2 linked regions of the Homo sapiens genome follow. The protein of the gene in region 2 interacts with the protein of the main gene of each other region in a pairwise test. Each region holds a gene or a part of one and is shown on either strand. Other genes may lie near its edges.

The links.
Region 1: the proteins of PPIG (region 2) and NKAP interact in a two-hybrid assay, tested with the Homo sapiens proteins (one large-scale study listed by BioGRID and IntAct).

The regions. Positions count from the first base shown.
Region 1 is NC_000023.11:119,919,847-119,923,461, forward strand, and holds the end of NKAP (NF-kappa-B-activating protein), read right to left. Parts: 3' UTR 826-3,615; downstream 1-825. Other genes in the region: AKAP14 (A-kinase anchor protein 14), read left to right, coding at 65-117, 662-761. UniProt on the Homo sapiens protein: Acts as a transcriptional repressor. Plays a role as a transcriptional corepressor of the Notch-mediated signaling required for T-cell development. Also involved in the TNF and IL-1 induced NF-kappa-B activation.
Region 2 is NC_000002.12:169,590,681-169,594,505, reverse strand, and holds part of PPIG (peptidyl-prolyl cis-trans isomerase G), read right to left. Parts: intron 1-3,825. UniProt on the Homo sapiens protein: PPIase that catalyzes the cis-trans isomerization of proline imidic peptide bonds in oligopeptides and may therefore assist protein folding. May be implicated in the folding, transport, and assembly of proteins.

The sequences.
Region 1 (3,615 bases), on a different chromosome or scaffold from region 2:
TTGAAAAAAACAAAAAGAGTTGGTATGACTGGTCTGGGCTAACAGTTGTCCTTCTCTTTTTTAGGATGCACCCATTGTTGTTTCTTATGTAGGTGACCACCAAGCATTAGTTCACAGGTAATGAACATTTGGAGGTTTGTTTTAAAAGGGTGGGAGAAAGGTCATCACACTCCAGGAATCCAGCAGTTGCGCAACAACAGATAGTTCATGTAATGGTCACTTTTCTTCTTTGGACCACCAAGCCCATTAGAATGGGCTGAAACTGTTCTAGAAAATTATTTTTCTTAGTGTCTGGTTTTTCATTCATTATAAGCTTGAGGATTAGTTGCTGGAGTGGGGTGGAGGCAAAGTGGGTCATGTCTATCGTTTCTAAGGAAAACTTCAATATCACATAAAATTAACTCATGTATAATAATCCCTTTTATAGCAGCTCTCTTAAAGTATCTTTACATATAAGCTCATAAATCCTTTCATTGACTGGGCTTAAGAAACAGTAAAGGATAGACATAGAGAACCTTAGCTACCTCCCCTCCCCCGCCAATAAAAGAGGCTTCTTGCTTACTAGGAATATAAAAGAGTAAATAGGGAATCCCCTTTGTTTGATTTTAAAAGCTTTTGATTTAAAAATACTTTAAAAGTGTTTGTTTTTCTTCCTTTGTAGACCAGGAATGGTTCGCTTTCGAGAAAACTGGCAGAAGAATCTTACTGATGCCAAATATAGTTTCATGGAGTCATTCCCCTTCTTATTCAATCGTGTCTGATACTTACAGGATGTCTTAGGATTGTTTTTCTCATCAGGATACATTAAAAATACAATACAGCACGTCAAACCACAGAATATTTATTGAGTAATAAACTTGTGGCACACAATCCAGCTGTATTTTTTTGCATTCATTCATTTTCCATTCTGCAACCTCCATCACATTAGCAGAGTAACCAGTAAGTTGTTTTCTATTTTCTAAAGTATTTTTTTCTATCACTATATGTATCACTTCTGAGTCTTACAGGTATAGAGCTGAGTTTAGAGAGTTGCTAAAATTCACCTATTGGACCAAACTAAGGTTGGTACTTGGCTGTTTGTTCCCCATCTGAGCCTAAGTCTCCAGCTCAGACACATCTCTTTATGGGCACAACTGGGAACAACAAAATGGCAACAGTTCTACAGCTCATAATATAACCAGTCTGAAGGGTTCCCCTACTCACAGACCCCTTCATTTACTGGGAGTTAAGCCTCACTGCTAAATAATATATTTTGAAACTGGAAAACTGGGCATGCTGCCTTCCACAATACACCACTATACTCATGATTGCAGGAGGGTGGCTTGGGGACTAGGGGCAATGACACGGGAAGGATACAATCATTGCCCTTACTTATCTTTGATCTTCTTCCCATCCTCACACTGAATAATCACTTGTTCCTACCTTCCCTGTGAACCTCTCTTGCCTGGCTGCAAAATTTTAAGACACCAAAGACAAAATTACATTATGCTCTGAGTGATTACTTACAAGTACATCAGAATATTTACTTACATAGAAAAGCACTGGAAAGGAGGAACACAAAATATGAAAGACAATTGATATGGTACTGAAATTTTTCTTTTTTAACTGTTAGATATTTGTGCAATAAATAAAAAAGGAGGGAAAACCACATCAGAGCAATAGGCAAGGAGGTGGCAAACTAGATAAGTCTCCTTGGAGAACAAAAAATATATTTAAAATACAATAGCCCTACTACAACTGATTTATGGCTCAGGTGACTAAACACAATTTGAAGCAGTAACAACACTCATAAGCTGAAAATAAAATACTTTTAGCCCTTTTATTCTTCTTGCCTCTTTCCCAAAGAATATGCCAATGAAGCTGTTCTTGATGTCACAATATTCATATATCGCAGAATTTCTGCATTTAAACTACCTTGCCTACTGAAAATAAGATAATCATTTCATCTCTAGGAACCAGTAACCAAAAAAAAAATGTCCTTAGAGAATACATTTTTATTTGTTTGTTTATTTAGAGACGGAGTCTCATTCTGTCTCCCAGGCCGGAGTGCAGTGGCTTGATCTCGGCTCACTGCAACCTCCACCTCCCAGGTTCAAGCAATTCTCCTGCCTCAGCCTCCCGAGTAGCTGGGACTACAGGCACGTGCCACCATGCCCGGCTACATTTTTTGTATTTTTAGTAGAGATGGGGTTTCACCATGTTAGCCAGGATGGTCTTGATCTCCTGACCTCATGGTCCGCCCACCTCGGCCTCCCAAAGTGCTGGGATTATAGGTGTGAGCCACCACGCCCAGCTGAGAATAAAATTTTTAAGTGGGTATTACAAAATTCAGGTTTTATTATTCAGGGAAGTAGATGGATTGAGACTCAAAACTTTGGGAACTAGTTTCTTTTAACTTTTGAAAACTACAGATTTATTAGGCTAGGCAGCAACTACAATTAGGTATAAATAAACAGAAATCATTTCAAATTCAGGGGTCATTAATGCTGCTACATGCTGACTCTTATTTTCAGTAGTTGCGGGTTAAAAGTAGACATTTCCTGGAACATATATTTAATAGTATTTAAGACTGTTAATACTGTTTAATTATAAAACTTTGGGCCGGGTGTGGTGGCTCACGCCTATAATCCTAGCACTTTGGGAGGCCGAGGCGGGCGGATTGTTTGAGGTCTGGAGTTTGAGACCAGCCTGGGCAATAAGGTGAAACCTTGTCTCTACTAACTATACAAAAATTAGCTGGGCATGGTGGTGCACACTGGTAGTCCCAGCTGCTCGGGAGGCTGAGGTGGAGGATTGCTTGAGCCCAGGAGGTGGAGGTTGCAGTGAGCCGAGATTGCACCACTGAACTCTAGCCTGGGTGACAGAGGGAGACCCTGTCTCAAAAATAATAATAAAAAAACTTTTGCTCTATACTTTGAAATATGACTGCCTTATTTAAACACTTTTGAAAAACAACCACTTAAAAATATAAGGCAAGCGGGCATTTTACAATAGTATAATCAGAATGTCCTTATCACTCAGGTAATTTAAATTTATCATAGGCATGTAATAATAATGCAGATCAAATAACCTTAACAAAAACGGCCAGGCACGGTTGCTCACACCTGTAATCCCAGCATTTCAGGAGGCTGAGGCGGGCAGATCACTTGAGGTCAGGAGTTCGAGACCAGCCTGGCCAAGATGGCGAAACCCCATCTCTATTGAAAATACAAAAATTAGCCAGTTGTGGTGGTGAGTGCCTGTAATCCCAGCTACTTGGGAGGCTGAGGTGGGAGGATCACTTGAACCCAGGAGGCAGAGGTTACAGTGAGCCGAGATCACACCACTGGGCTCCAGCCTGAGTGACAGAGTGAGACTCTATCTCAAAAAACAAAAAACAGAAAACCAACCTTAATGAAAACAGCCAAAACTTCCTGGGTTCCCTCCCCCATTCACTCTTCTGACCTAATTAAAATTGAACGAAATAAACAAAGGAACAAGACCACGATATCATAGTCCCACAATTTTCCATTTCTCCCCAACTTAAAAACAAACAGAAAGGTTTAAGTGTTTAAAATGAAATCTACTTAGTATATGAAAGACAGTTAAAAATATTTAATATCATTTTAGTTTCTC
Region 2 (3,825 bases):
CACGTATCAGTAAGCACATTAAAAAGACAGGATTTACACCATAATGTTAGCAATCATCATGTGTGGGCCATGGGTTTAAGGGTAATTTTTAATGTATTTGTTTTCCAATTTTTCTTCAATTTCGTAATCAGGAAACAATTATTTTTAAAAAAGTACTAATAAAATGCGTTTTTTTTTTTTTGCCTATCAACAGCAAAGATCTTTTAAAAGAATAACTCTCAACACATGTACAAATGGAAACAGGAATTTATACTACTACTAGTGATCATATACAACTCCTTTGAAATTTAAGAATATGAGAAATTCATAAGTGTTTATACTTTGAACCAGTAAAATTCAACTGTTGGAAATCTATTATGAGGAACTACTCTAAATTCAGAAAGCCTTCAGGTATAAAGTTGGCTACGCTGGTGCTCTTTTTAGCAACATATAATCAAAAGCAACCTATCATAATATCACAAAAAAGTGAAATTGTCTCTGGTTCAACAATAATTAAAGCAATGCTTATGAAGATTAATAATTTGGAAAAATAATCAAGATATAAAACAGTGGGCCGGGCGTGGTGGCTCACACCTGTAATCGCAGCACTTTGGGAGCCCGAGGCAGGCAGATCACAAGGTCAGGAGATCGAGATCATCCTGGCTAACATGGTGAAACCCCGTCTCTACTAAAAATACAAAAAAAAAAAAAAATTAGCCGGGCATGGTGGCGGGCGCCTGTAGTCCCACCTGGAGGCTGAGGCAGGAGAATGGCGTGAACCTGGGAGGTGAAGCTTGCAGTGAGCCGAGATCACGCCACTGCACTCCAACCTGGGTGACAGAATGAGACTCCGTCTCAAAAAAAAAAAAAAAAAAAGATATAAAGCAGCATATGCAACATAATGATGATTGTGTAAACTACTCCCGACCTTCAAGCTCAGGCAAAGACTTACAAGAAGACAAAAAAAGAGTGAAAGGAAATAAATCATTATTGTGTGTGTCTGTAAGACTGGAGAGGGCTTTTGCCTCACTACTTCTTTCTAGTTTTCTTTAATAAATGTACTGCTACTTTGGGAGGCCAAGGCGGGTAGATCACCTGAGGTCAGGAGTTCATGACCAGCCTGACCAATGTGGTGAAACCCCATCTCTACTAAAAATACAAAAAAATAGCCGGGCATGGTGGTGGGTGTCTGTAATTCCAGTTACTTGGGAGGCTGAGGCAGGAGAATCACTTGAGCCCAGGAGGCAGAGGTTGCAGTGAGCTGAGATTGTGCCATTGCACTCCACCCTGGACGACAAGAGCAAGACTCTGTCTCAAAATAAATAAATAAATAAATAAAATAAATAATAAATGTACTGCTATTATAAAGAAAAAATTCCTAAGATATATATATATATATACACACACAGTCTTCTAACATTATAATGTACATGTGTGGAAATGGCTATAAGATGTATTCAGAGTCTATCACTCAAGGATACACTCTTCATAGAAATTGATTAGTTTTCCTGAAATGACAAATCACATATGCCTCAAATGCAAGAAAGATGAAAGGCAGCAAATTACTATTAAAATTACTACACAAATCCCTTGAATATGTAAATGTTTTAATATTAGCAGCTAATGAAAAACAATGGTGACAACAAAAGATGGCTCACATGCTGTGTCGCTAACATTACTGAAATGCTACTAATTACTAATCATTATAAAAAGTTACTAATTACTAATCAGAAACAGTATATCCTATTTCCTCTATAATTATGATTTCCTCGATTATTAAATAATACCTGAAATCACGGTGGTTCACACCCGTAATCCCAGCACTTTGAGGGGCGAAGGGAGGAGGATCACTTGAGCCCAGGAGTTCAAGACCAGCCTGGTCAACATAATGAGAACGCATCTCTATTAGAAAAAAGAAATCTGAGCCAGGCACGGTGGCTCACGCCTATAATCCCAGCACTCTGGGAGGCCGAGGCGTGCGGATCACAAGGCCAGGAGATTGAGACCATCCTGGCTAACATGGTGAAACCCCGTCTCCCCTAAAAATACAAAAAATTAGTTGGGCGTGGTGGTGGGCGCCTGTAGTCCCAGCTACTCTGGAGGCTGAGGCAGGAGAATGGCGTGAACCCGGGAGGCGGAGCTTGCAGTGAGCAGAGTTCGCGCCACTGCACTCCAGCCTGGGTGACAGAGCGAGACTCCATCTCAAAAAAAAAAAAAAAAAAAGAAAAAAGACATCTGAAACCAGATGCAGTAAGACAAACATCTGGTCAATTTTTCATTTTTTTTCAAGTAAAAGTAAAGAGAAAAAATAATGCTAGGAGATACCAAAAACATGATTCAGGGGAAAATTAAGCCCTTACAATTTTAAATAAAATATCCATGACCAGCCTGGGCAACAGCAAGACCCCATCTCTATTAAAAAAAAAATGACAATTAGCTGGGTGTGATGACCCAGGCCTGTGGTCCCAGCTACTTGGGAGGCTGCGGTGGGAGGATCATTTGAGCCCAGGAAGTTGAGGTTGCAGCGAGCAGTCATCATGCCACTACACTCCAGCCTGGCCAACAGAGTGAGACTCTGTTCAAAAAAAAAAAAAAAAAAAAAAAAATCATGAATTGCCTAAAAATACTAGAATATAATCAAAATTTTCAGTGTAGTAGTAATCTGTGGGTGATTTGTTTGCTGCAAATTTGTTTAGTATGAACTACAGCTAAAATCCAGACAAATTTTTCTTGGAAAAAAAAAAATCACAATATGTGGCACTGTGCCCCATTTCTACACAGCAATCAGCATAGTCTGCTCCCAACAGATGACATATATATGTTCTAGTTTGACCTAATTCTAGCTATTGCTTATTAGCTGTTAAAATTTATTGTCTACTTGACCTCATGTACTTACCTCACCTGCTTGACTCCTTCAGAAATTTAAGTATAATATACTGAATCTACTTTTTTCATCATAATGAAAACACATTTTTAATAAGATAAGCAATAAAGCTAATAAGCTCACTGAAAAAAATTAATCATACAAAATGCACAAAATTCTAAAACTTAGCTATAGCTTTTAATACTTTTATTATATTCTTGTTTTTCCTATGCAGGTGATTAAAGTTATTTTTAATATTTATCAACAATATAGTCACTTTTGTATTTCAATAATAAGGTAATACAATTTAAAAATATCACAGTGCTATCATTTATAAACTTCTGCAACAAACACATTTCATAAAAAAATCAGTAAGAGGTAACCAGTTCATGTGTAAAAAAATTTATCCTTGTAGTTTCATACATAAACTATTTTCCATATTAATCCTAAAATAACATGACTAAATGAAAAACAGGACAAAAATATAGGCAACTAATTATTAAAATATATAGTAGCGGACATGGCATTTATAAGTAGGCATATGGTAACTTTATTATATTTTAAAGTTATTTGGAAGTTTCACACATTATGAGGAAGTCAGCATAGCACCGAGTTTCTAATCTAGAAAAAATACAAAGTAAATTATTTCTATTTTTAGAGACAGGGTCTCGCTATGCCGCTCAGGCTGGAGCACAGTGGTAAGATCACAGCTCACCGCAGCCTGGAACGCAGTGGCTCAAGCAATCCTCCTACCTCAGCCTCCCGAGTAGCTGGGACTAAAGGCGTGAGCCACCACCTCCAGCTAATTTTTAAAAATTTTTTTGTGGATATATTGCCTAGTCTGAGTAAATTATTTTTAACGATTAAGATGCCAAGCAAGTCTCTGACCCTTAGGATTCTCCTCACTGATTCCCGTGTGTCCTTTTAAGATGCAAATTAGCCAGATAATTAGTTAGCCAGAGTTCACTCTCTGGGAACTTCAC